4 separate regions of the Homo sapiens genome follow, and regions 1, 2 and 3 are each reported to be linked to region 4. The links are microRNA targets in miRTarBase. Many come from high-throughput screens and were not tested one by one. Region 4 holds a microRNA gene; each other region holds the end of a gene's coding sequence.

Evidence for each region. The annotated mature microRNA hsa-miR-629-5p reads UGGGUUUACGUUGGGAGAACU and lies in region 4 at 4,791-4,811, opposite strand. An mRNA with a match to its seed (bases 2 to 7 or 8) in the 3' UTR can be bound and repressed. Matches are read on the target gene's strand: a 7mer-m8 pairs with bases 2 to 8, a 7mer-A1 pairs with bases 2 to 7 and ends in A, and an 8mer does both.
Region 1: miRTarBase lists GPR82 as a target of hsa-miR-629-5p. Seed matches in the 3' UTR shown: 7mer-A1 at 2,935-2,941.
Region 2: the mRNA of TUT7 is a reported target of hsa-miR-629-5p. Seed matches in the 3' UTR shown: 7mer-m8 at 1,045-1,051.
Region 3: miRTarBase lists RSRC2 as a target of hsa-miR-629-5p. Seed matches in the 3' UTR shown: 8mer at 916-923.

The regions. Positions count from the first base shown.
Region 1 is chrX:41,726,607-41,733,726 of GRCh38, forward strand. GPR82 (G protein-coupled receptor 82) reads left to right here. Exons shown (of 3, transcript NM_080817.5): 2 at 167-237; 3 at 387-3,524. The coding sequence starts at 421. The coding sequence ends at 1,431. The region is part of intron 5 of CASK (calcium/calmodulin dependent serine protein kinase); the gene reads right to left. Among named protein-coding and RNA genes, the nearest start is that of GPR82, 6.0 kb to the left of the region's middle.
Region 2 is chr9:86,282,259-86,289,378 of GRCh38, reverse strand. It overlaps TUT7 (terminal uridylyl transferase 7), which reads left to right. Exons shown (of 27, transcript NM_024617.4): 27 at 635-1,646. The coding sequence ends at 702. ISCA1 (iron-sulfur cluster assembly 1) reads left to right here and starts at 6,841. Exons shown (of 4, transcript NM_030940.4): 1 at 6,841-7,001. The coding sequence starts at 6,921. RefSeq lists enhancers at 6,441-6,720, 6,841-6,990.
Region 3 is chr12:122,499,156-122,506,261 of GRCh38, reverse strand. It overlaps RSRC2 (arginine and serine rich coiled-coil 2), which reads left to right. Exons shown (of 10, transcript NM_023012.6): 10 at 556-2,808. The coding sequence ends at 735. ZCCHC8 (zinc finger CCHC-type containing 8) reads left to right here and starts at 5,330. Exons shown (of 14, transcript NM_017612.5): 1 at 5,330-5,620. The coding sequence starts at 5,422. RefSeq lists silencers at 1,993-2,193, 5,622-5,771 and enhancers at 4,285-4,976, 4,912-5,091, 5,142-5,201, 5,402-5,481, 4,977-5,670 and 1 more.
Region 4 is chr15:70,074,637-70,081,756 of GRCh38, forward strand. It overlaps MIR629 (microRNA 629), which reads right to left and starts at 4,832; the gene lies at 4,736-4,832. It overlaps TLE3 (TLE family member 3, transcriptional corepressor), which reads right to left. Exons shown (of 20, transcript NM_001105192.3): 5 at 1,460-1,522. RefSeq lists enhancers at 3,683-4,289, 4,290-4,896.

The sequences.
Region 1 (7,120 bases), not on the chromosome of region 4:
GCCAACATGAATTGGTTACATGTGCCTTAAAATTTTTTAAATTATATTTCTAGGAAAAATCAATCATCACTTACAAATTGTTTTACAATCTAAGAACTATACATTTCTCTAAGTAAAATTATAAATCCCAGGCATGTAACTATTCACATCAAATTTTGTTTTTCAGACAAAGGCATTATCCATCACAATAAGTAACTTTTTGTCTTTATTTCAACCGGACAATCGTGATTAGAAAAGGTAAGAAGCCATCTATACTTTCCCGTTCCATCCAATACATTTTTGTTACTATTTTATTTAATTCAATGTTTTTCTTTTTTAAAAACTATTCAGCTTAAATACTGTACCAAAAATAATTTTAATATTAAATATCTGCAATTCTATTCTAGCTCCTGTGACAAAATTCAAGAAAACCTGACATAAATGAACAACAATACAACATGTATTCAACCATCTATGATCTCTTCCATGGCTTTACCAATCATTTACATCCTCCTTTGTATTGTTGGTGTTTTTGGAAACACTCTCTCTCAATGGATATTTTTAACAAAAATAGGTAAAAAAACATCAACGCACATCTACCTGTCACACCTTGTGACTGCAAACTTACTTGTGTGCAGTGCCATGCCTTTCATGAGTATCTATTTCCTGAAAGGTTTCCAATGGGAATATCAATCTGCTCAATGCAGAGTGGTCAATTTTCTGGGAACTCTATCCATGCATGCAAGTATGTTTGTCAGTCTCTTAATTTTAAGTTGGATTGCCATAAGCCGCTATGCTACCTTAATGCAAAAGGATTCCTCGCAAGAGACTACTTCATGCTATGAGAAAATATTTTATGGCCATTTACTGAAAAAATTTCGCCAGCCCAACTTTGCTAGAAAACTATGCATTTACATATGGGGAGTTGTACTGGGCATAATCATTCCAGTTACCGTATACTACTCAGTCATAGAGGCTACAGAAGGAGAAGAGAGCCTATGCTACAATCGGCAGATGGAACTAGGAGCCATGATCTCTCAGATTGCAGGTCTCATTGGAACCACATTTATTGGATTTTCCTTTTTAGTAGTACTAACATCATACTACTCTTTTGTAAGCCATCTGAGAAAAATAAGAACCTGTACGTCCATTATGGAGAAAGATTTGACTTACAGTTCTGTGAAAAGACATCTTTTGGTCATCCAGATTCTACTAATAGTTTGCTTCCTTCCTTATAGTATTTTTAAACCCATTTTTTATGTTCTACACCAAAGAGATAACTGTCAGCAATTGAATTATTTAATAGAAACAAAAAACATTCTCACCTGTCTTGCTTCGGCCAGAAGTAGCACAGACCCCATTATATTTCTTTTATTAGATAAAACATTCAAGAAGACACTATATAATCTCTTTACAAAGTCTAATTCAGCACATATGCAATCATATGGTTGACTTTTGAATGGAAAACCCCACAATATTAAGAAAAGCATTCATGTGACTTTATTAGGGACACTAAACTACATCATTAACATGTCACAGCTTGGTTGACAATAATCACCAAGAAAATCTCTTTGGTTTTTAAAAATAAATAAACATATATTCATAAAACTCAAAAAACAGTTATACTGAACGTTGAGATGGCAGAAACTTTCAGAAGCAAAAATTAAGCATATTGAAAGGATCCCACTCATATGAAACTAACAGGCTGTTTTCTGTTTAAACTCAACTGTCAGTGCTTCTGTTCAGAACACGTTATTTCATGACTAGGATAAAGAAGCAAATGGTTTATGACTTGTCTGCTTTCTGGTAGTTAGAATACAAGGGTCAATCTATGGCTAGTGTTTATTGGTAATTTTAAAATCTTTAAAAATAAGTAGCTGGGCACAGTGGCTTACGCCTGTAATCCCAGCACTTTGGGAGGCTGAGGTGGGTGGATCATTTTGAGGTCAGGAGTTCAAGACCAGCCTGGGCAACATGGTGAAACCCTGTCTCTACTAAAAATACAAAAATCAGCTGGACATGGTGGTGGGCGCCTGTAATCCCAGCTACTCGGGAGGCTGAGGCAGGAGAATCGCTTGAGCCCGGGACGGAGGTTGCAGTGAGCGGAGATCGTGCCACTGCACTACAGCCTGGGAGGCAGAGCGAGACTCTGTCTCATAAAACAAAACAAAAAAATAAAAATAAGTAAAAAAATAAATAAGAAATATCCTCATTCACATCTTACCTAAATGCATGAATAATACAGTGAAAAAAATCCAAGGTTTTATAAACATATTATTTATTTGAAATTATCTGGCTCATGTTATTGGGGAGAAGCAATATTCATTGACTATATTTTTAAAGCAGATGATACTTATAAAAATGCTTAAATATTTGGATTAGGCTTTGTCAAAGTAAAAAGCTATGTCATTATATGCCCATCTTCATCACATTGTGCATATTTTCTTCTGTATTCAATATAAATAATGTTATTAGTGACAAACAGTACCTGGCAGTTAATTTTTTGTGAAATAAATGAATGAATAATAAGGGAGTGTAATAGTATTGCAGTTAAGAGATTGATCTCTGAAGTTATACTTCTTGGGTTCAATCTGGCTCTACTTTTTATTTAGCTGGACAATCTTAGGCAAATTAACTTATCCTCTGTACGTGTTAATTTCTTCATTTGTAGAGCAGAAAATACTATCTTATTTACAGATCCTATTATTAAATCAGCTGTTACTATTATGAGTAGCTAACGCTTAGTAAGCACTTGCTGTTTGCCAAGCATTCTACTTATATGCTTTACATATATTATTTTAATCACCACAACTCTAAAGTATACTAATTTACTGATGAAAATATTGAAGTGGGCTGGGTGCGGTGGCTCATGCCTGTAATCCCAGCACTCTGGGAGGCCGAGGTGGGCAGATCACCTGAGGTCAGGAGTTCGAGACTAGCCTGGCCAACATGGCGAAACCCACCTCTACTAAAAATACAAAAATTAGCTGGGCGTGGTGGTGTGTGCCTGTAGTCCCAGCTACTTGGGAGGCTGAGGCAGAAGAATCACTTGAACTCGGGAGGCTGAGGCAGGAGAATCACTTGAACTCAGGAGGCGGAGGTTGCAGTGAGCCAAGATCATGCCATTGCACTCCAGCCTGGGCGACAGAGTGAGACTCTGTCTCAAAAAAAAAAAAAAAAAAAAAAAAAAAAAAAAATATATATATATATATATATATATATGTATGTATGTATGTATATGTGCATAGTTAAGTAAATCACCCCAATTTTTTCTAATATTTAAGTGAACATTTAAAGATAAGCATTTCTTAATGTTAATTTCTTTTCTTTCATGTAATCTTGTCAGTAGACAAATGATGGTGACTATATTCTGTAATAAGTACATATATTATGATTAAAAAAAAAAGCGTGTACTATCTGCCCAAAGAGATCATAAGCACTTTGGAGCTATAAACTTCTTGTCTATTTCTACTTCCATGGTACTGATATTCTCTTCTCAGATAACCAAACAAAAACAGCTGAATAAAATCAACCATTAATAGTAACTTGCCACTTTGTTAGAGACTGCTTAAAGACTCCTTTTTTTCTTCACATAGTAATTACTTCAGTGTCCAAAATGAAGTTTAAAGTAAGTTCACGTAATCCTTCCAAGGCTTTAATCTCATAGCATGTTTTGTTCCTGAGTTAGAGCTGTAAAAGCAATTCACAGTACATTGCCCAAGAGCCATGTGTTCAAAAATCACCAGAGGTTATTCCGGGGGCAAAACAAACAAACAAAAAACCACACACACACACACACAAAAACCCAGTAAATTTTTTTTTCCTTTTCTACTTTGATGCTTAACTGAGACATGAAAATGTTCTGAGAAAAGTCTGAACACATTCTGGCTTCAAATATTTACAGTGAGTATCAATTCGTTTATAGTAGTAATTGGATTTTTGGCTCATTAATGTGCAGAGACAAAGGAGATTTGGGAACTTGAGGTGACCGCCCTGAATGCTAGCTGTAAATGGAAGTGTCCAATCTAGTGATTTCTAGACATGTAAATCATAGAGTAACTCAAAGTCCATCAGGGAGAGTTCCTGAGATGCACAGATTTCTCCACAGTTACAAAAGTAGTTTTATTCTTTTTATGAGATGGGGTCTCACTCTGTCACCCAAGCTGGAGTGCAGTGGCGTGATCTGGCTCACTGCAACCTCCACCCCCCCGGGGTCAAGTGATTCTCCTACCTCAGCCTTCTGAATAGCTGGGACCACAGGTGCCCACCATCATGCCCGGCTAATTTTTGTTATTTTTTTGTAGAGACGGGGTTTCGCCATGTTACCCAGGTTGGTCTCGAATTCCTGAGCTCAAATAATCTGCCCATCTTGGCCTCCCAAAGTGTTGGGATTACAGGGGCAAGCCATTGTGCCCAGACTAAGTAGTTTTATTCTTACATGAGTTTTGAGACCAAAACTCATCCGACTAAGACAGTAATGTTTGTTTAACATAAGCTATACTGCATGTAATAATCTCACTGGACTTAGGAGTTTTAAAAAAATACAACTTCCAGTCAGGTACAGTGGCTCATGCCTGTAATCCCAGCACTTCAGGGGGCTGAAGTGGGGGGATCACTTGAGCCCAGGAGTTTGAGACCAGCCTGATCAACATAGTGAGACCACGTCTCTACAAAAAATAGAAAAATTAGCTGGACATGGTGGCACATGTCTCTAGTCCTAGCTACTTGGGAGGCTGAGGTGGGAGGATCTGTTGAGCCCAGGAGGTTGAGGCTGAAGTGAGCCATGATTGCACCACTGCATTCCTGCCTGGGTGACAAAGCGAGACCCTGTCTCAAAAACAAAAACAAAAAACCCAAAAAATACAACTTCTAAAAATAATTATTTAAAAAACAATCACTTTACAGCTCTACCACTACTTTAAACAAAAAATATTTCTAGAGATTCTTACATTTAAAAAGGCAGGAAAAGAGATATGCAATTTCTCTTTAAGTTACTCATTCTGATAAACTCACATTTTAATTTCCTATACTGAAGAATGAACTATATACTCAGCTCATTATCATCATGGATATCTTTACACCATAGATGCTTTCCTAAACAGTTGATTTTAAATCATGTTGAATTTTTTTATGTAATTGAAGAACTGGCTATTTAATGGCATAGTAAATATTTTACTTAAAATATCACTTCTGTTTTTGGAGACAGGGTCTGTCTCTGTCGTCCAGGCTGGAGTACAGTGGTGATCATAGCTCACTGCAGCTTCAAACTCTTGGGCTCAGGTGATCTCACCACCTCAGCCTCCTGAGTAGCTAGGACTACAGGTGTGTGCCATCATGCCTGGCTAATTTTTGTATTTTTTTTTTTTTTTTTGTAGAGATGTGCTCTTGCTATGTTGCCCAGGCTGGTCTTGAACTCCTGGGCTCAAGCGATCCTCCCGCTTCAGCCTCCCAAAGTTTTGAGATTATAGGTGCAAGCCACTGTGCCTGGTTTTAAAATCACCTTCAAAACTTACCCTATTTTAAAGTTTGGATTTCAAAAAAACAGTGTTTTTAATGTGTCTGTGTGAGTTACAGTCAAACACAAATTTGGGGTTTCAGGAATCTCAAATTTTGACTCAAAGGCCAACAAGATTTTATCTTAAACTGTAGAAAACAGGCATACACATACTCTCATTAAGGCAGCTTTCAAACTATAATCAGGAACACAAACCATTAAGACTAGACAAAATTTAGGATAAACAACTTAACAGGGAAGTAAGTTTCTACTCCCTGGATAGAAGAGGAAGATGGCCCATTCTGTTCAATTTGCTGAGGACTCTAGGCCTATCACTGGCCTTGTGCTCTGTCAGGGTGGGAGTTACGGGCAAATCTGGGAAGACAAGGTGAAAGGAAATCCTGCCGGCAAACCACAAAGGGAGAACAGAGGGAACACTGGTAATCTGCTAAGCATAAGCATTTCAATCCAGCAGCCTAATGCCACAAACCTTCCTCTGATGGCCCCTACACTCAAATGGAATTGATAACACTGGGAAGAGTTACTACAGCTATAGTTGCACCTGACAGAAAAACCTCTGGCTATATCACACACGCTACTCCTGGCTCAGAAGGAGAGGAACAGTAAAAGGATTCACTTCTAATAAGCAAAAGAATTTTTTTTTTTTTTGAGATGGAGTCTCACTCTGTTGCCCACGCTGGAGTGCAGTGATACAATCACAGCTCATTACAGCTTCAACCTCCTGGGCTCAAGCAATCCTCCTGCCTCAGCCTCTCCAGTAGCTAGGACCACAGGTGTGTGCCAACACACCTGGCTAATTTTTATTTTTTGATAGAGATAGGGTCTTACTGGCCAGGCGTGGTGGCTCACAAGGTCAGGAGTTCGAGATCAGCCTGGCCAACATGGTGAAACCCTGTCTCTACTAAAAAATATATATATAAAAAAAATTAGCTGAGCGTAGTGGCAGGCGCCTGTAATCTCAGCTACTCAGGAGGCTGAGGCAGGAGAATTGCTTGAACGTGGGAGGTGGAGGTTGCAGTGAGCTGAGACCGTGCCACTGCACTCCAACCTGGGCAACAGAGCGAGATTCCATCTCAAAAAAAAAAAAAAAAAAGGAGAGAGAGAGATAGGGTCTTACTATGTTGCTCAGGCTGAGAAACTTAAAACCAAGGAGTTGATTTCTTTTTTTGTAGGAGTAGGCTGGGCAAAGAGAAGTATAGCAGTTAGAAACACAAGATAAATTTATAATAATCATGTAATCCATGAGATCTTCCTAAGTACAATTATTAAAATGCCACATTAAAACTGAACGTGCACATTATGTTAAAAAATCTTATAAAAGAAATGCAGAAGATTAACCAATGTTAATATAATAATAAAGAATAGTGGCTGGGCACGGTGGCTCACGCCTGTAATCCCAGCACTTTGGGAGGCTGAGGCGGGCAGATCATGAGGTCAGGAGATCGAAACCATCCTGGCTAACACAGTGAAACCCCGTCTCTACTAAAAATACAAAAAAATTAGCCGGGCATGGTGGCGGGCACCTGTAGTCCCAGCTACTCGGGAGGCTGAGGCAGGAGAATGGCGTGGACCTGGGAGGTTGAGCTTGCAGTGAGCTGAGATGGCGCCACTGCACTCCAGCCTGGG
Region 2 (7,120 bases), not on the chromosome of region 4:
CTTCATTATGTATTACTTTGTTACATATAATCACTTAAGAATTTCTCAGGTCTCTTCAGTTTTTTCGTTGATCTATTTGTTCAGACTCCAGAACAAAATTTAGTAACTATTCTGTGGTATTGGTTTTAATCAGTAATCCTCATTTGTGTCCTCCACCTGTAAATATAATAAATTTCCCTTTTTCCTTTTATATCAATAAGTTATTGCTACAATGATTACCATCCACAGCTTCGTATCTGCAGAGTAATGATCTAAGATATTTATTTCTGGCCAGATAATTCTTTGCAATCTATTATGTTTGGCTGCAAATGAAGATACTGAATTATACAAGGCAGAACCTTAAGTTCGTCTGGTGCTCTGTACCAACATGGAAATAGTGAATATGTAAATGTATTAAAATGAGATCACTCTAGGAACCTGTCTGCATTCAGAAAGAATTTTGACTAAGCTTATATTTAATTAATCATGTGCATATATACTTTTCAATATCAAGTCTTATTACTTGATTCAAAACAAGTGACCAATTCTAGTATGAAGTTTTTGTGACTACTTAATAAGAAGTAATTTTATGGCTTTTGTCATAAAGCGAGGCTTGTTTCATTTATATTGGGTTTTGTTTCTTCCCCTCCTCTAGGTAGCCTTTCCAGTAAATATATGACTCAGGGAAAAGCCTCAGCGAAGAGGACCCAGCAGGAATCATGAGGGAAGGAAAATGCAGCACTCTAAATGGCCACTCAGGCGTTCCTATTCACTCGGAAAATTAGGTTCATTTCACAGGACACAGCAGTGTAGATCAGGCTTCAACTTAACATTTAAGGGAAATGTCAGATTTTTTTTTAATTTAATGAAATTGTTAATGAGGAAAAATTTTTAATATAGTCTTATCTACCACACATCCCCATAGATTTAAGGATTTTAATAGAAAGACATGATGTATGTATTTAAGCCACGTTAAAAGAAAAAATATAACTATGGACCGGTATTCAGTGAATACAGTTTCATGGTTTTTAATTCTTTCAAAGCACATTAAAAATGGTGTGCTGATAAACCCCAAGTAAATTAACCCTTTTTCCGTATAAATCCATTTTTTGTTTTGAAGAGGGGAAATTATATTTATTGTTGTTTACTGAATCCTGGTGTGAAAGCATATCAGATATGTATGAACTGCTACTGCTGTACTTCCGATTTACGGACATCATTTTATTGCTATTTGTAGACGTGATAACATGAACATGAGTACCTATTTATGTGGGCCTTCAGTGGATGGGCAGTGCCACTCAGGTCTCTGGGGTTTCCCTCTCTAATTTTAAGTAAATTGACATATAACTACTATGCTTATAAAAATGAAGTAAGGAAAACAAGTAGTCCTGTTTGCCACTAAAAACATTTTCAAAGGAAAAATAAAATGAAAGTACTTTTTACTTTTTATGATACTCAGAAATTAGGATGAAGAACTTTTAAAATTGCTGAAGATCAAAGAGGTTATCTCTGCCAGTCACAAGTGTGGCTGGTGTCATTCTGGGTCTGACTGGAGCCCTCCTGGACTGTTTCTTTAATTTCAAAAGCCCTGCAGACATAGTACCTGGTCAGAACTATGCCTCGGTTTATTTATCATTTTGAAATAAAATCAGAATTTCAACCTGTAATTTTATCTACATTATTTTCTAGTGAAAGATTCCTAAATTTCCTGGGGAAAAAAAAAAAAGATCAAGGAGTGAGAACATTGGGAATGATAGTAAGAGGCGTTTAACAAAAAAGAAGAAAGGACAAATATACTCCCCTAAAATAGTGTACACAGACTTCCCTTTGACTTGTGCCCTTGCAATCATTGGTGTGTGTTAACATCCAGTGTGTTCCAGGCTCTGGGAACGTATAAATTTGTTATTATAAAAGGCACAGATGGGGGTGGGGGGGCGGGGAATTTGTAGGCAGGGAGGCTCAGGGGGTGCTTGCTGGACGAACATTCTGGATGTTTGAGGACTCAGAAGACGCACATCCCTGTGCCCTTCTTTTTTAAACAATTATTTGAAGACAGTCTAGCTAAAGACGAATCATATCAAAATTAAAGACTTCAGAATTTGGAGGCCATGGTAGAAAGAATTAGTGATCATTCCCTACTCATTTTGAACGCAAACTAATGAATGACGCAACCTGGGCTGATGCTGCTCTACGTGACCGTCCTCAGCTGCCCCCTTCTGGTTTCTTCTCTCTAACTCATGCATGAAAGTCGACTAGGCTTACAATGCTTGTCACACTTTTCTTTGAAAAGCCCATTGATGCTGTTCTGTTGTTTTCTAGCATTATAGCAGAAGACAAGTCTAAGACCAGGCTGATTTTTGTTCTCTTGTAGGTTTTGTTTTTCTGCCTGGGTGCTTCTGTTTTTTAATTTTATCCCTGTAATTCAGAAAGAAAATTACCTCAATATAGAAATACATCTATCCAGTGACTTTTCATGCTAGGAAAACTTCAAGTTTAATCTCTACATGACTGGCTTAATTTTTACTGTCATTCTGGTGCTTCCTGTTTCTAATATGGATTTTCTCATTGCACTTCTAATTTTCTGGAATTTGCCTCACTGACCTTCCTTTACCTCTCATTTCTTTAGTTTACTTATATTCTCTTCCTTTTCATAGGAGCCATATTTTCTTGTATCCCTTTAAGGATGTTAAAAGTTTCCTACATTTTAATCTGATCCTTAAGGTAGCTTCTGCCCAAAGTACTGGGTCTTTTGTTTGATTTTCAATACCTCACACTGGATCCATGGGACAATGAGCAGTATTTGCCAGCAGGCCTGGATAATGGATTGCCCTTGATTCTTTACCTGGATGTGGTCGCAGCCCCATCTTGCTGCCCCAGCTGGGATGCCAAAACGTCTGCTCTTTGCTAAGTCCATTGGCCTAGCTATCTTTCAAGTGCAGCCGGCTTATCTATCTTAAGCTGTACAAATGCCCCATTACCAAGGTTCTCCTTGCCACCTTCTCTCAGGAACAAAAATATGAAATCTCTTTTGTATAGCAGTGGTCCAGTGGCCCCAATCTATGATGTTTAAAACTCTTGCTTGGCTGGGTGCAGTGGCTCACCCCTGTAATCCCAGCACTTTGGGAGGCCGAGGCGGGCAGATCGCTTGAGGTCAGGAGTTCGAGACCAGCCTGGCCAACATGGCAAAACCCCGTCTCTACTAAAAATACAAAAATTAGCTGGGCTTGGTAATGGGCATCTGTAATCCCAGCTACTCAGAAGGCTGAGGCAGGAGAATCACTTGAACCCAGGAGACGGAGGTTGCAATGAGCCAAGATTGCACCACTGCACTCCAGCCTCGGCGACAGAGCAAGACTCCATCTCAAACAACAACAACAACAACAAAACTCTTGCTCAATGTGTGCAGGATCAGCAGTGTGCAAAAATGTTTTTAAATGTTCTTAGATAACTTCAGTGTATTTTTCTTCTTGAAATATGTTTGACAAATGGCTTCTACTTTTAAATCTTTCCTGAGTGGAAAAGATCCTGGATAAATACATCAATAGAGTTCAGTGTTACAAGCAAAAATATACACACACACGTTGAAAACAGAATTTATCAAACCCCTGTAAAACTGTAAAGCCCTCAGTAGTTTTTTCTTTGGAAGCAGGCATATTTGGACAGCAGCAGTCAAGAACTACATAGACTTTCCACTGAATGGAACTCTAGACTTAGACAAGGTCTGGCCCACCTCGTTTTCCAGCTGTGTGGCAGTCCCCTAATCTCAGGCAGTTCAGTTTCCATTCCTATAAAATGGAAACCATTCTTGGCTTTCCACACAGTTGTGATAATCAAGTGAGGTCTTACCAGGAAAACACTTCTTTAAATGTCTAGAACTATGAAACTAATGCCTGAAGTGCGGGGTGAAACAGTTCCCTATTGCAAGTTCTGTCACATATTAGTGGAAATCTAAAAGTGGTTACAGCTTGTAACTCTTTTGACACTTCCCATACCCACCTCATTTTGACACCACTGGACAGCTGCTGCTCTGAGATAAGCTCACATACTGCTTAAATAATCGTGAAAATTATTTATTCTAACATAACATTATTTCAGGGACTTGTGCCAGTTTCAAGTGATATTAGAAACTAACAAGTAGATTATGTGACTTAATGCTTATGTGCAAAACAACTAACCAAGTTAAAAACTGAATAGTGGGGTTTTCTTTTTTGTTTGTTTTTGTTAAATAGTGGGTATTAAATAGAGGAAAGAAGTCTGTTAAACATACACAGGATCCTGAATCAGAAAATTGAGGACTAGATGTTTTCAATAGTGTCTAATGCTCTCTACTAAAATCCTTGAGTTTCAGCATCTGTAAAACTGCCATGCCAGTGCTTCTGCCCTACTCAGTTCAAAGTTGTGAGGCTAGTATGAGATAATATAATATGCTCATGGAGTTTTCTGAATCTTGTAAAGTGCTGCACAACTGTGTAATGTGTCAATAACTGAAAAAAAAATGACAGCATCTTTTATTTTTATTAAATTTTAATTTTAGGGCTGTTTTAGGTTCACAGCAAAGTTAAGCAGAAAAACAGAACTGCATATATCCCTTGTTTCCACATGTGCCTCACTGTCACTCTGCACCACAGTGGTACACTTGTTACAATCTTAAACCTACATGGACACATCATTAGCTCTCAGTGCCCATAGTTTACCTTAGGGTTCACTCTTGGTGGTGTACATTGTGTGGGTTTTGACAAACGCATAATGATATCTATCCACCATTATAGTAGTTTCACAATACATGGCATCTTTAAATACTCATTAACAATTACCATTTGAGTGAGGCTGTGTGCCTTGCACCCCTCTAAGGGCTTCTCCTGTATTAACTCATTTAATCTTCACAATATCTGTAGGAGGGAGGATATGAGATCCCAAACCCCCAGGTAGTCAAAGATGAAGGCCAAGAAACAAACCCACCACACCACCACCTCTCTATGTCCCTCCCTCCCTCCCTTCCTCCCTCCCATCACTTTTTCAGTTTCTTTCTTTCGAGATGCAGTCTCGCTCTGTCACCCAGGCTGGGGTGCAGTGGCGCAATCTTGGCTCACTGCAACCTCCGCCTCCTGGGTAGCTGGGATTACAGGTGCCCGCAAACACGCCCGGCTAATTTTTGTATTTTTAGTAGAGACGGGGTTTCACCATGTTGGCCAGGCTGGTCTAGAACTCCTTATCTCAAGTAATCTGCCGGCCTCCGGCCTCCCAAAGTGCTGGGATTACACGTGTGAGCCACTGCGCCCGGCCCCCAGTTTCTTTTATTTTCTTTCTTTCTCTCTCTTTCTTTCTTCTTTCTATCTGTCTGTCTGTCTCTCTCTTCCTATCTTCCGTTCTTTCTTTTTTTTTTTGAGACAGAGTCTCACTCCGTTGCCCAGGCTGGGAGTGCAGTGGCACGATCTCAGCTCACTGCAACCTCCGCCTCCCAGGTTCAAGCGATTCTCCTGCCTCAGCCTCCTGAGTAGCTAGGATAACAGGTGTGCACCACCACACCCGGCTAATTTTTGTATTTTTAGCAGAGATGGGGTCTCACCATGTTGGCCAACCTGGTCTCGAACTCCTGACCTCAGGTGATCTCCCCGCCTCGGCCTCCCAAAGTGCTGGGATTACAGGCGTGAGCCACGCGCCCGGCCCCCAGTTTATGTGCAGATAAGGCTTAGGGGAAAAAAAAAAGCGTCCTCTTATTGTCAATGCGATTGCATTTCTGTAGCAGGAAGTCAGAACTACTTGATGGAATTTTGAACTATCCTTTCAGAAACTGCAGGAGATCGAAGATAAACTTGGCTTTAAAAAATGTTTCACTGATTAGTTCTTCCCACATTCAAACACTGCGAATCTGTCCTCCCCAGGACTGCTTCATAGACCCCTCCTGCCCTTTTTCCTTCACTTCTAGCACTTCAATGACAAATGCCACCTGTCTTGATGTCCTCCTCTCTTCATCTGCTAGCCCTGTCCTGCCAGTATCTCATTCTTCCCTGGCCCCTCTTTACCTGGCTTCCTGTGTATGCCTGGGTACCGCGCCTGTGCAGTGTCTGGTGCTCAGGAATACTGCATCAAAAGGCAGAATTAAGCCCCTGAGCAGCCAGGACAAGGTCTGACAACACGTTTTAAATCGAGTAATTGTTGCTCGCTATAAATGTGACTATTCACACTGCTGCCCAGTCACATTTTCAAGTAGGGTTGGTTCCCAGTTCAGCACCAGAATGAAAACTGCATTAGTCACCACCCTTCAGCATCCCCAGCAGTACAGCACGCTGGGGAGAAGGGTGGAGGGTGGCGATTATACAACTCTGCGGTAACGCCATGCTCTTAAGAACAGCCTAATTGGACCACAAAAGAAGAATGAAAATGGATGTAGATGTCTGGGCATCGGAACGATCACTCTGCATTTGAGAGCATAAGCTCCCAGTGCAGGGTTGACTTATGCGTCCTTAAGTGTCACCGCCTATGATGGTGTTTGTCACGGTGAGTATTAAAGCAGGGGGTGACGCTGCACCTTGCCCCGGGGGCAGGTGGTGAAGCTACGTGCATCCGGAGTCAGCAGGTCTGAGGTCATTCCTCGCCCCCTCCCGCCCGCTCCCCGACGTCACGCCGACTCCGTCCTCGGCGGTGAAGACATTCCTCCCGGGCCCTGCGCCCTGCAGCGTGGTAACCCCACTGCCGGAGACCGTGCGCAACCCAGCTGCTAGACCCCCGGCGTTGAGCGGCAAAACCCCGCCCCGAGCGGCTTGCCCCGCCCCCGGCTCGTCACTCATGCAACTCACCCAATGGTGGCGGCGGGGGGCGGGGCTAGGACTGAGGGCGCCGTGCGCCGAAGCTTGTGGCGTCAATGCGCCCGCCGTGTCCATGGAGAGAAGCTGAGGCGGCCGACCTTCGGCCCGAGGCACCGGGGCGCCGGGACGGCGAAGATGTCGGCTTCCTTAGTCCGGGCAACTGTCCGGGCTGTGAGCAAGAGGAAGCTGCAGCCCACCCGGGCAGCCCTCACCCTGGTGAGTGCTCGCGGCGCGCGGCGGGGCCCGTGACATTGCTCGTGTCCGCCCCGTGCAAGGGGAGGTCACGGCGGCCGGGAGTGGGGCCGCAGGGACGCGGACACGTCAGACCTCGGCGT
Region 3 (7,106 bases), not on the chromosome of region 4:
CCCAAAAGTATATTTTTGTTTGTTTGTTTTTTGTTTTTAGTATAGACGGGGTTTCACCATGTTGGCCAGGCTAGTCTCGAAATCCTGACCTCAGGTGATCCACCCGTCTCAGCCTCCCAAAGTGCTGGGATTACAGGCGTGAGCCACACTGCACCCGGCCAAAAGTATAATTTAATAGTGTCAGCCTAGTTCACACCTGTAATCCCAACACTTCGGGAGGCCGGGGGGCAGGCGGCAGGGGGGATCCCTGAGGTCAGGAGTTCGAGACCAGCCTGACCAATGTGGTGAAACCCCGTCTCTACTGAAAATACAAAAATTAGCTGGGCGTGGTGGCATGTGCCTCTAATCCCAGCTATTTGGGAGGCTGAGGCATAAGAATTACTTAAACCCAGGAGGCAGAGGTTGCAGTGAGCCGAGATGGCACCACTGCACTCCAGACGGGACAACAGAGCAAGACTCCATCTCAAAAAAAAAAAATACATAAAAAATAGTGTCAAGTGAGAGAATATTTATCTCCATCTGAATTCATTGTAATGTTTTATGTCTGATTTTTAGAGTGAAGATGAAGCTGGATGTAGCTCAGTTGATGAAGAAAGTTACAAGACTCTGAAGCAGCAGGAAGAAGTATTTCGAAATTTAGATGCTCAGTATGAAATGGCAAGATCACAAACCCACACACAAAGAGGAATGGGTTTGGGTTTCACATCTTCAATGCGAGGAATGGATGCAGTTTGAAAATGATCACACTTGTAAAGTTTGGGACTTATAGACTTCTTGTTCTGATGTCACGTCCTTGTTCACCAAACAGCTAGCACTCTAGCTTGCATGGGTGTTGCATTGACTTTAATTTATTGAAAAATACAAATTTTTGTAAATATCAGATCAGTGATACTGGTGTTAGTGTTGTAATCAGGTTAAACCCACTTCCATTAAACTTGACAGGACTATAGAAGGATAATATTTTTTAGTTCATGAATTCTACTTTTCAAATATATAAAAGCTGCAGGTGGGGATAAAATCTCATACATGGATTTTTTCGTGTCCGCTGTCTTGTGTACTTTTGTACTTAACCTTGTACAGTTATTTTCATCTCTTGAAACATGAAAGAAATGTTATGTAGATGTTCTTTAGAAGATCTGGCCATTTGGTACATAATCCAGCACAGATAAGCTGGGTGGTAATGATAATAAAAATGGTTTTCTCAAAACTGGTGTTAATTTAAGTTACCTGGGATGTTTCTTTGAATTTGTTTTATAGTTTCTGTAGCATTTGGCAATTGCTGTTAGAAAACACTAGCTAGAAATCCCCTCCCCACCACCCTTTTTAAGGCCAGTTAACTATACTACAGTCAATACCGTGGTGAGCAAAAATGTAAAAGGTGGAAGGAGAAAACTTACTAAAATAGTATGTTTTCCTATTATAAGGGACAGACTTGGTATTCAGTATTTGTCAAATATTACATGTGTTATTCAGGAGATAGATTAATGCATTAAAGGGATGTAAGCACTTTTATTTTAATAAAGTGCCTTATAACAAGTTCTTTGCATGCTTTTTGCTCATTATCCCTTTGAAGTCTTCTCCAGCATAGACTATAAAATATTAAAATATTAGAAATTTTTTTTGTTTGTTTTTTTGAGACAGGATCTTGCTCTGTTGCCTAAACTGGGTGCAGTGGCACAATCTCGGCTCACTGCCAGAGCCTCTGCCCCCCAGGTTCAAGCAATTCTCCCACCTCCACCTCCCATGTAACTGGGATTACAGGCGTACCACCGCACCCAGCTAATTTTTGTATTTTTAGTAGAGGTGGGGTTTTACCATGTTGGCCAGGCTGGTCCTGAACTCCTGACCTCAGGTGATCCACCCTCCTCAGCCTCCCAAAGTGCCGGGATTATAGGCGTGAGCCACTGCAGCCAGCCTAGAAAATGTTTTGTTACTAGATTGAACATAAATCTGGAGCCAAGGGGTGGGGGGGGCCTGCAAAACTTGAAGTTAATTTACTTCAGTTACAGCAAAGTAATAAGGTTTGGCTTTCCTTTGAAAAATCCTTTGGAAAACATCACAGAATGAGAGCACATTACAATCAGGGAAGACTACAGGAATAAGATTGACAGCCTTATTTTAAAAGCTGGAATTAAGTCTTGCCAACTTGCTCATTAGGTATTTTTTTTATACATGAAAATGAAGTAATGGGGTGTTTTCTTTTTTTTTGCTTTCTGTCCTAGGCTGGAGTGCAGTGCATTGCAGCAGGCTCCCCCAGGCTCAAGCAGTCCTCCCACCTCAGCCTCTTGAGTACCTGGGACCACAGGTGCTCACCAACACACCTAGCTTGTTTTTAATTTTTTATAAAGACAAGGTCTTGTTACGTTGCCCAGGTTGGTCTTGAATTCCTGGCCTCAAGCAATCCTCCCACCTCAGGGCTCCCAAAGTGATGGGGTTACAGGTGTGATCCACTTCACCTAGCCAGATTGTAAGATTTTTAATGTACTTTAATAAACCTTTCATTTTCCCAGAGCACAGAAATTCTATGGCAAAATGGCTTTTCACCGTGTTTCAGTGACAAATCTAAGCCTTCTAAGGAAATGACACTATGGATCCTTCATTTCGTGATCATCAACATTTTTCAATTAAGCTCTGCCTTTTTAAATCAATCTTATTAAAAATGTTCATGACCTTCTAAGGCAGTGTGGACGCAAAAGCTTCCTGTGTGTCTACAGTTATTTTAGGAGCTGACCATACATGATGAGTGATACAGCCTGTACTTTGCTCATCTAGAGCAGCACTGTCCAATAAAATATGTGTGTATATGTATATTGGTCCAAGTGATCTTCCCACCTCACTCCCCTGAGTAGCTGGCACCAAAGGCCCATGACAATGTACCTGAGATGGGGTTCTCAGGCTGTTGGCCAGGCTGGTCTCCCACTCTTGGCCTCAAATGATCTGCATCATCTCAGCCTCCCAAAGTGCTACCTGGGATTCAGGTGTGAAGCCACAGTGCCTGGCCTAAGTATTTTATTTCAATTTCTTTTTTGAGTAGCCAAATGCAAATAATTAAAAGATGAAATTACAGTTGTCCCTTGAACACATGGGTTTGAACTTTAGGGTCCACTTACATGCAGAATTTTTTTTTCTTTTTTTCTTTTTTTTTTTTTTGTGAGAGACTCTTTTGCCCAGGCTGGAGTGCAGTTGCATGATCCTAGCTCACTGCAACCTTTGTCTCCTGGGTTCAAGCAATTTTCCTGCCTCAGCCTCCTGAGTAATTGGAATTACAGGCACCCGCCACCACGCCCGGCTAATTTTTGTATTTTTCGTAGAGACGGGGTTTCACTATGTCAGCTAGGCTGGTCTTGAACTCCCGGGTTACACCATGTTGGCCAGGCTGGTCTTGAACTCCTGACCTCATGATCCACCCGCCTGGGCCTCCCAAAGTGCTGGGATTACAGGCGTGAGCCACCACGCCAGGCCTCATGCAGATTTTTCAGTGAAAGTAAACCTGGGAGGCGGAGGTTGCAGTGAGCCGAGATCATGCCACTGCACTCCAGCCTGGGTGACACAGTGAGACTCTGTCTCAAAAAATAAAATTTCAAAAAAAAAAAATTTAAATGGCCAGGCACAGTGGGTCATTCCTGTAATCCCAGTATTTAGGGAGGCAGAGGCAGGAGGATAGCTTTAGCTCAGAAGTTCAAGACCTACCTGGGCAATATAGGGAGATCCTGTTGTCCACAAAAAGAAAAAAAAAATGTTAAAATGTGTAAGTGACTTCCCAATGTTGTAAACGGAAAGAGGCTTCCTTAAGGGCCTTTGAGCACTGACCTAGCAGTGTTCCAACCTCATCTTGCTCCACTCTGCCTTTTCACTCAACATGGTGGTCCTTACACCTAAGACACTCTTCCATCCTCCCACCCCCAACTTTGCCGATCCTTAAAGTCTCACTTCCTCACTTTACTGACTCCCACAGACTAGGGTGTTTGTTAAATATTCATAACTTCCTGTGTTTTTCACCTTTTTTTTTTTTTTTTTTTTTTTGAGACAGAGTCTTGCTCTGTCGCCCAAGCTGGAGTGCAGTGGCACGATTTCGGCTCACTGCAACCTCTGCCTCCCGGGTTCAAGCGATTCTCCTTCCTCAACCTCCTGAGTAGCTGGGATTACAGGCGTGTGCCACTACGCCTGGCTAATTTTTGTATTTTTAGTAGAGACAGGGTTTCTCCATGTTGGTCATGCTCGTCTTGAATTTCTGACCTCGTGATCCACCTGCCTCGGCCTCCCAAAGTGCTGGGGTTGCAGATGTGAGCCACCGCCCCCGGCCCACATTTCTTTGTGTGATCAATATCCATCAACAACCATCTCGACCCAAGAACAGGAACATTTATAATTATGGGGTTTTTGTTGCTTTTTGTGGACTACAGCCTTCGTGAGAGGAGGAATTACTCTATTGTGGTTACTCTTGTAACCATACTCAGGTCCTAGACAAGTGCCTGGCCCATCGAAGGTGTAAGTAAATAATGTGATTGAATGACAGAAAGCCTCAACAGACAAATAGTTGAGTCTAGCTAATCTTACATTAAAAACGAAGCAAGCTCAATAAACTAATCTACAACAGTCATCTCTGTAGCAAAGCTGGAGTTTCTTATTCTCTTTTATGTTTATTTTTATTCAGTTCCCTTTCAGGCTATGGAGTTCCTTATTCTCTGGTGTGGCACGCACACCAGAATCTGTGAGAAGCTATGCGTCGTGCTCTGATTTTTCACCCTTAGTTGCCTAACAGGAACATCCCATACTGGTTTTTGTTTTTCTTTTTCTTTTTGAGACAGGGTCTTGCTTTGTCTCCCAGGCTGGTGTGCAGTGGCGCCATCTGGGCTCAATGCAGCCTCGACCTCTTGGGCTCAAACCCTCCCGCCTCAGCTTGCCGAGTACTTGGGACTACAATCGCCCAGCTAATTTTTATATTTTTTTGTAGTGTCTGGGTCTCGCTCTGTTGCCCAGGGTGGTCTCCAACTCCTGGGCTCACGTGATCCTCCCACCTCTGCCTCCCGAGTAGTTGGTATTACAGGTGTGAGCCACCCCGCCCTGCCCCCAGATTGCTTTAGCGCATTCTGACCTACTCCAGCTTTCTTCACATTTCAAAAAGCACCAATCCCAGGATGCAATGCAGACAATGAGTACCAGTCGCTTAGAAACCACACGTCCCAGCATGCCGTCCTCCGGGCAATCGCAAGCCCGATAGGCCCCGCTGCATTCCGGGAGTTGTAGTCTCTAGCGACTGGCCCCGCCCCGTGTGCAGCTTTCGCGGCCTGCGTCTGGAGAAAACCCTAGCGGGTGGCTCCGTGCGGCCAGAGCTCTAGAGAGTGGTGCCGCCTTCCAACCTTCTTCCCCAAGCCCTGGTGGCCGGCTCCGCCTCTTCTCGAATCTTTTCCACAGCCCAAAATGGCCGCAGAGGTGTATTTTGGCGATCTAGAGCTCTTCGAGCCGTTCGACCACCCAGAGGAGTCGATTCCGAAGCCCGTTCACACTCGCTTCAAGGACGACGACGGCGACGAGGAGGACGAAAATGGGGTCGGCGACGCGGAGCTACGGGAGCGGCTTCGGCAGTGCGAGGAGACCATCGAGCAGCTCCGCGCCGAGAATATCCTTTCCTCTCGCTGGGCCCTGTCACCCGGGTGTGGGGCCGGGGCAGCGCCAGGCGTGGGGCCGGGGCAGCGCCGGGCGAGGGCGAGGGCGCGGGCGGAAGTTCCAGGAGGGCCAGAATTCCAAGTGCTTTCTGTCACCCGCCGGCGGACCGAGAGTCTAGGGTTCGGGGCGCGCAGGCTGCCTCGGCGCAGACCTCTTCCCCTCAGGGAGGCCGTCTCCTGACCAGACCCACTCCTGCCTCCCACCCGGGTGCCGTGTTTAGGGTTATTTTAGGCTGCTCACCTGACAGATTGTACACAAGCCCTTAATTGCCCCCCTCTGTTTGAGGTCGTGGTGAGGTTTCATATTTCGCAGCCACGCTCAAATTGTGCCGTCATGTTACAGTTGTAGGTGATGAAATACCGGCTGCTTAGACGCGGGATCGGTTTTTATACCGGGGCAAACGCTAGTGGTCCCAGAATGCAGAGTTGGGGGCCTCAAGGAATCCGGGTGTGCTGAGATAATTGGTTAATTGCTTGATTAAAATTGGGGATTAATTTTAGAGTTCTTCCACTCGGAGCTCGCTTCTGTGCTGAAGATGCTTTGCAACGCCTTGAGGAAAACGCGCCAAAGAAGTTTCTGTTAGACTTGAGTTACAAGATTGCAGATTTTTCTTGATTTGCTAGTATGTTTTTTTTTACGTTCGTAGAGTTTTATAGGTAGATAGATAACTTTGGTTCGGGTAGTTTTCCTTTTAAAATTTGTAGAGAACTGAAAGTGGCTGATATGTTAGCTTTTTTAGGGGGACGGGGTCGGGGAATGGAGTCTCAGTCTGTTGCCCAGGCTGGAGTGCAGTGGCGCGATCTCGGCTCACTGCAACCTCCGCCTCCCGGGTTCAAGCGATTCTCCTGCCTCAGCCTCCCGAATAGCTGGGATTACAGGCGCCCGCCACGGCGCCCAGTCAGTATATCAGTTTTTAAGGTTTGTGAAGCGCGATTTATTTTTTCAGAATGTCGTCTTCCTCCACATTGTGAGGAAAATTTTCAGAATACAAAAAGTTGAGGCCGGGCGCTGTGGCTCAAGCCTGTAATCCCAGCACTTTGGGAGGCCGAGGCGGGTGGATCATGAGGTCAGGAGGATCATGAGGATCAGGTGGATCATGAGGATCAGGAGGTCAGCCTGGCCAACATGGTGAAACCCCGTCTCTACTAAAAATACAAAATTAGCCGGGCGTGGTGGCGCGTGCTTGTAATCCCAGCTACTCAGGAGGCTGAGGCAGGAGAATCCCTTGAACCTGGGAGGCGGAGGTTGCAGTGAGCCAAGATCACACCATTGCACTCCAGCCTGGGCGACAGGGTGAGACTGTGTCTCAAAAAAAAAAAAAAAAAGTTGAAAGGATTCTACAGTGGACATCCATAGATTTATTCCAAATTCTAAAGTTGTTAACAGCTCGTTATACTGCATTCTCTTTATCACATAGTGGTTGTTGAAAGGTTTGACAG
Region 4 (7,120 bases):
AGCCACTTTCCTGGACAGAGGAGGTCACAGGCTGTGCAGCACTGGCAGGGCCTCTCGGAGAGGCCCAGAGCAGACAGAGGAGTCCCACTGAACAGGCACAGGGCACAAGTAGGGGGGAGGGTGACAGGCGATTTTACTTTCTCTTTTAGACCTTTTTCAATGAGCATGTATTAGTTTTGTAATTGAAACTTCCTTTTAAGTTCTAAAACAAAGAGCATGCCAAAAGATGGCTATTAGTCAACCACACACACACAAATTTTTCCATGCAATTTGCGTATGAGCTGGATATCAGATGATATTACAGGATGATTATTAATTCTCTAAACATGGTAACAATACTGTAATCATGAAGGATGGTATCCGTTTTTAGGAGATGCAGTTATAGTAGTTAGTGGTGAATTGTCAGGATATCTGCAATTTACCGTCAAAGGATTTGGGGAAAAAGTATGTCTACATATACCTTATCCATACCTGTCTAAATAGAGAGAAAACAAAGTATGTTTCCAGATGAACAGATAGAGAAAGAAAAAGTGGTAAAATGAACCCTAATGTAAACTACGGACTTTGGGTGATGATGTGTCAATGTAGATTCATCAGTTTCAACAAATGTACCACTCTGGTGAGGATGTTGATAGTGGGGAGGATATGGGAAATCTCTGTGAACCTAAAACTGCTCTTAAAAAAATAAAGTCTATTTTAAAAAGTGGTTGCATTAATTCCCTTTGGCCTTGAGGTAGTACCAGCCACATACACAGCTTTCTCTCCTACTGGGCTGCAAGCTCCGAGGGCATTGCCATATCTGATTCTTATATATTAATTCAATCATTTACTCAGGTCACCATTAGGAGTCCCTGAGGGAGCTGACATGGTCCCAGCCACTGAGTGGGAGTAGAGGGCAGGGCCTGCCCTGGCTGGAGTGAAATCAGAGGACAGAAACAGAGCCCACTAAAGTCGGCCCGTCTGTCTGGTCGGCACCAGGGGGCTTCTTTGCAGGCATTTATCTCAAATCACCCACTAGTCCAGCCGCTGTCCCAAATGGAGGTCCCTTGGAAGGTAGGCGTAGAAAGTGACATGACCACCTGGGTCATGCTCCCAGCAAGGGCACTCTGTACCAGGAACTGAGGTCCACTTTGGGCTGGGGATGCTAGTTTGGATGGGAAAGAGGCACCCACTGCCCACTGATGGTTAGGTCGCATGCCAGCACTCCAATCTCTGGACTCAGGTGATGGCAGAGAAACAATTCTATGAGAAGAAGGAGCAAATGGTCCCTCTGATATGGCCCCCTGCCTCCAGACTGGCCGGAGAAGGCTCTGGAAATCTCCAGGTTGTCAGCTCAGTCAGTATGAATGGACAGGGGCTGAGGCTGGGGCTGGGGCTGGGGCTCAGGCTCCAGTGAGACCCCACCAGCCACTGGGCTGATTTGGAAAGAAAAGGAAGAAATAATAAAAGAAGGTCTTACCTCTTGTGACAGGAAAGGCATGATCTGTGCTAAAATTGTGTTCAGTCTCTTCGCAATCTCTGTCTGCAAAGGCAAGGAGACCACATGAAGCTCAGGCAAATAAATCAAGTCACTGAAATGTCATAGGCAAGTGGAAATGCAAACTCCCCCCAGACCACAGCCCCTCTCCACGGGGCTCCATCCTTTCTGCCCTCAGTCAGCCTCCTACCAGGAGGCTCTAGCTAAATCCACAGCATGAAGAAATCTCTTTCAACTCCCTTGCAGCCAGGCTGCCTACATTTTAGGGAGCTCCAATTTCCATCAGAGGTAGTCTACATGTCTGGTTCAGAATATAGTTTGCATCCTCTGGATGGAATCCCTAATTAAAGCAAAACGAAATAAAAATCACCCCCAACAACCCAGCAAAACCCACTGTAAGAGTGAAACACAGTTTAGTGAGAGAGGAATTGCTCTGCCCACTGGTGCCCAGTGCCAATAGGACATGAGCTCTCAGATAAATGGGACTAAGCTGATAAGCGGTCCTATGTGGCAAAGGGTTCCCTGGGACTAGCCTCTCCCTCACCAAGATCAATCCCTCCCCCACATATATGCTACCAGGCTAAAATCCTACCATTAAGCCTTCTTTCTTTTTTTTTCTTTCCCATTAAGACAGGGTCTCACTGTCACCCAGGCTGGTGTACAGTGGTATGATTTTGGCTCACTGCAGCCTCGACTTCCTGGGCTCAGGTGATTCTCCTGCCTCAGCCTCCCAAATATCTGTGACTATAGGTGCACTGCCACTCCCAGCTAATTTTTGTATTTTTGTAGAGACTGGGTTTCGCCACGTTGTCCAGGCTGGTTTCAAACTCCTGGGCTCAAGTGATCTGCCCACCTTGGCCTCCCAAAGGGCTGGGACTACAGACAGGAGCCACCATGCCCAGCCAACACTTCATTTTTTAGGATATAGCATTGCCTTGTCTAAGAAGCTGCTCAGAGATGTAATTCATTAGATCCCTAATCCCTCACAGAAGTCAATCTTAGAAAGGTAGATCAATTCTCTGCCTCATCTCCCAACACCCTAGAAAAGACTGCATTTAGAAAGTCAACAGTTTCCACCAGTATCCTATGTAAACTTTAGATCTCAGATCAAGAGTGGTGCTATACGGGTTAACTGAGTCCAGATAGAAAGGCCTAGAACCACTGACAGACGACTCTCAGAATTGCTTTTCTTATCTCATTCTGAATCCTGAGCCCGCCAGGACTGAGGTCCCAAAGCTGGCTTCAAAGCTTTCATCAGCACATAGCAATCTTTCAGAGACAAAACCATGACAACAGCCTTTAAAAATCTGTGATCATCTGCATGTCAAATGATTCTGGATGAGAAATCCTTGTGCACTTAAAATAAAAACAATCTGAAGGCGCATAAATAGACCCTGGACCTCGGGAGAATTCCTTGGGCTAACACCCTCCACCCCCTCCACCCTTGGCCACTAAAGAGGACGCCTCTGGTTTGTGGAAAGGCAGGCCATCAACTAAAGAGCCTTATGGGTTTTTGCAGGCCTGTGTCCTGGGCTGCCAGCCACGGTGGCAGGGCTCGCCAACCTACGGAGCCTGTCCGCTACAGTGGGGGTTCCTGGCAGGGAGAGGATCAGGAATCACTGCTGTCAGCTTTCTGCCTAGAACACTCTAGCTCCTCAGGAACAGAGTCAGTGTTTCCCAGCCAGCACCACTGTTGGCATTTGGGGAGAGACAATTCCTGTTATAAAGGACTGTCGCTCATATCCCAGGCCAACTGTGTCAACAATGGCCCCCACTTCCAAACTGCCCAGCTCAGACCCACTGGGACTCCACATTGACACATGTGTGGGGCACTCTAGCCAGGACACCATACATCAGGGTTTCTCAAACACCATGCTATTGACATCTGAGGTCAGATAATTCACTGCTGTGTGGAGCCCGTTCTGTGCACTGCAGGGCTTTTAAAAGCATCCCTGGCCTCTCCACCCACTAGACACCCGTCATTCATACTCTAAGGAACCCAGGAGGATTACTAAATAATCATTATATAAATTGTTAATCTAGTTAAGTGGGAAGAGCTCTCCCAAACAGGGTCCTTCCTCACTCTGCTTATTTTTTCCTCGCCTAAATCAACTGATAGTAGGAATGGGGAATGAAGCAAAAAAGTCCGGGTTGGATAGGGCAGGAGTTCTAGAAACAAGCATAGGCTGCAGCTCACTCCAAACCGGCAGAGTAACAAGTTCTCTCACCTTTGAGTTCATGCACCAAATAAGAATAGAAAGATATGTAAAAAACAAAAAGCAAACAAAAATAAACAAAAAAAACCAACCTTACTGTTTAGGAAGCTCACAGGTCCAAGGCCTGTTATCTTAAACAACAATAGAGCAGTGTCTGGCACACAGTAGCTGCTCCGTAAATGTTTGGCCCAAAGAATAGTATCACTGGCATCTCTGCATTTATTGAGACTTCATATTGCAGTGACCCCTTGCTGTGGATCTGGGCCTGCCCCAGCATGGGCAGCATCTGTGGGAGGGGCCGTGGTGGATGGAGTGTTGACATACACTTGGTGGCCAGTGGCCCAAGCCCTTCACCAACGGGGTGGGGTGGCACCTCCAAGCCAGGCCAATCGCAAGCCACCTAGATGGGTCCCTGGCCACTACTCCTCCCCACAGCCAGGAAGGCAGGGGCAAGGTCAGAACATCCCCAGTCATTCTGGCCTCCTCAGCAACTATTAACTCTCACAGTCTCTGGGAGAGCAGGGAGGCAGGGTGATTATAAAAGGGTTCTGGCTATGGCCTCCTTCCACTGGTAAACAGGCCAAGGGTCAGGGTCTCGGGAGTTGACAAAAAAGAAACGTAGCTGACCTTGCCCTTCCCCACACCCTTCAGCAAACACGTGGCCAAAGGCTTCCCACAGACAGGATCTTCCCATAGGGCTGGTCTGGAGCCCAGCTCACTCTGGTTATGAGGACAACGGATCTCCCAGGATTTATGTAGCCATCCGGGCCATCAGGTGACCACAGCTGGGTGGCTCAGGGCAAGTCCTCTCTCATTCTCACCCCTCCACCCTCCTAAAGTAGTTCCTGCCTCCCAACACCACAAACAAGCATCAACTGAGGGCTATCGCAACAATGCCACACAGATGCAGAACCTTCCACAAGCCTGGGGTAGTGGCATTCAGGCTGTCTTTCCTGAGGCCCATGTTCGACGAAGAGAGGCCTCTCTGCAAGGCAGGAAGGACTTTGGCACGTCACCAGACAGGACTGTGTAGGGTTGAGGCAGGCAGAGGGGAGGGGCTGGGCTTACGTTGGGAGAACCTCCTGGTTCACCGTAAAAGTTCTCCCAACGTAAACCCAGCCCCTCCCCTGGGAAAGGGACATGAAGCAAGCACATCCCATCCCTCCCAGCTGTCACTGTGCCATCATCTGCTAGTACCCTCTTGGGGTCTCCCCACAAAGTGGAAGCAGGGATTGGGCCTCCCCCATCTCTACAAAGGCTGCCCAACCCTGAGAATGGGCTGCGTGCACTCTGCAGAGTCAAAGCATGAACAGGAAAGCTGTTCGCTCAACATTTTAAAGAAATGTTTATTTTTTGGAGGGTGGCGCTTGGGGGAGGGGAAGTTCCTGGAAATGGAAAGCTGGCTTAACAGAAGCCCTCCTAACAACAGTAATGACCGCTGATATCACCCACCCAACTCGCCATGTGTGCATCCACAATAACCCCGCGGAGAAGGCGCTTGTCAACATCTCCACTTTTCAGATGGGGAAACTGATGCCCAGCCATTAAGTGATTTCACTAAATGACTTCCTACCAAGAAGCCAAATTTTGACATTTCAAGAGAGCTTAGAGAAATATTTTTGAAAGAAAAACCACCATTAAGGTTAATAATTGACAGCACTTCTGATTAGAACAGCTGTTAAAACAGCATTGGATCCAACTCAAACAAGCTCTAAACATCAGTTCCAAAAAAGGAAAAAAAAAAAAAAAAATCAAGTGTGACTTCAACAATTGGGACAGGTCACAAATCACAAACTGGAACTCGATCGTATGTTGGAAAACTCCTTTTGGCAACTTGGCGCAATCCGTTATCGATAAGGCGGCTGTAGTTTCCAGAGGCCGACCTCCATCCTTCCCTCCATCTCGGTCCCACAAAGCCACTGCTTTTGAGCCAGGTCTTCAGAAGCGAATCTGAGAGGTGGTGGGAGGTGGGAAGATGGCTCCCTTTGGAAAGCACTTTGGAAAAGGTGTTCAGGGAGGCTGGTGCCGCCTTTGAAAGTTTCTTTTCAAGTATGGTTCAAAGCAGGCGCTTTGTTGGTGGAAAAACATTGTTCCTCAGAAGGAACTAATCTACTAGATACAGACAGAGAAGCAGTTCAGAGAAATGGGGACAGAGGTCCTGCTACATCCGGAATCTGCACTACCAACTGGGCGCTGGGAGTAACATCTGCCCTGCATCTCTGTCAAGATTGTTAGGCAAATAAATGACAGAAAACAAGATAGTGGGGGGCAAGTGTAATTTCCCAAACAGCAATCTGTTCCATGCGCCTTAGTAGCTCCCATTTGCATGATCATCTCCTCATTAAAGCAGGACCTCTGAACATCTTGCTGTAAACCGAGGGTACTTGAGCATTCTAAAAGTCTATTTCTCTAACCACAGTCTAGTATTCACGTTTGCTGCTACTTCAGACTATCCTTGGCCCTTGACCCAAGACACTAAATTAAGGGAAACGGAGCCTGCTCTTGATCTGTACCCCCCAGCAACCTCCTGCTCCTGGGCTTGCAGCACCCAGCCAGTCCTTGCCCTTATTTTTAATTTAGGTGACTGTGTCCAACACACCGTCGAGAGCTACTTCCACCAGAGAGTCTGTCTGCTAGTTAGTTTTAAACTGCCCTGTCGTGTGTACCTGTGGACTCTGAATGCACAATTCCTTTTAACCTCAGCCAAATAAAGGCAAGGAGAAGAGAAAACTGCCCCTTCAAAGAGTGTGTTATGCTCCAACGCCACGCAGAGATGAGCTGGCTTCTACCTCCAATTCTGCCTCCATTTAGTTGTGTGGCTTTGGGCAAATCACTTCCCTTCTCTAGGCATTAATTTCGTTGTCTGCAAAATGAAGGGATTAACTAGATAACGTATAAGATCCAGGAGCCCTAATTTAGAGTTTTAGAACCCTAAATATTCCCGAATTGGCGTGCAGCTTATCATTTCCTCCATAAAACAGAGCATCACATGAATTTACAAAAGACCAGCAGAGAAGAGCCAAGCCACCTTGAGATGTGGATGGATGCTGGCTGGTTGCTGGGCAGCTGGCTGACCTGGGCTGGGTCCCAAGGACCAGTCTTCAGAGCACGAGCCATTCAAATCTGTCCATCAGCAAAACTGCGCTTCACTGTGGAAGAGCCTCTAGGCAAGAACAATGATATCATACTTCTAAGTGTCAAGCCCCTACTGTGCAGTTTCTGTGATTCAAAAGGGAAGACTGGTTGGTGAGGCTAAGACAACCAGGCCAGGGTTCTCCAAGTTGTTGCATTCAGCGGGAAGTAATTCCACGTCTGTGAGACAGGCAAGCGGCCATCCCATGCTACTAGGCTTCTAGTTACATTTGTGAAATGAGGATTTCTTCTTCGGAAAATCAGGGCAGTGTCATGCAAAGAGCATGGTACTGTG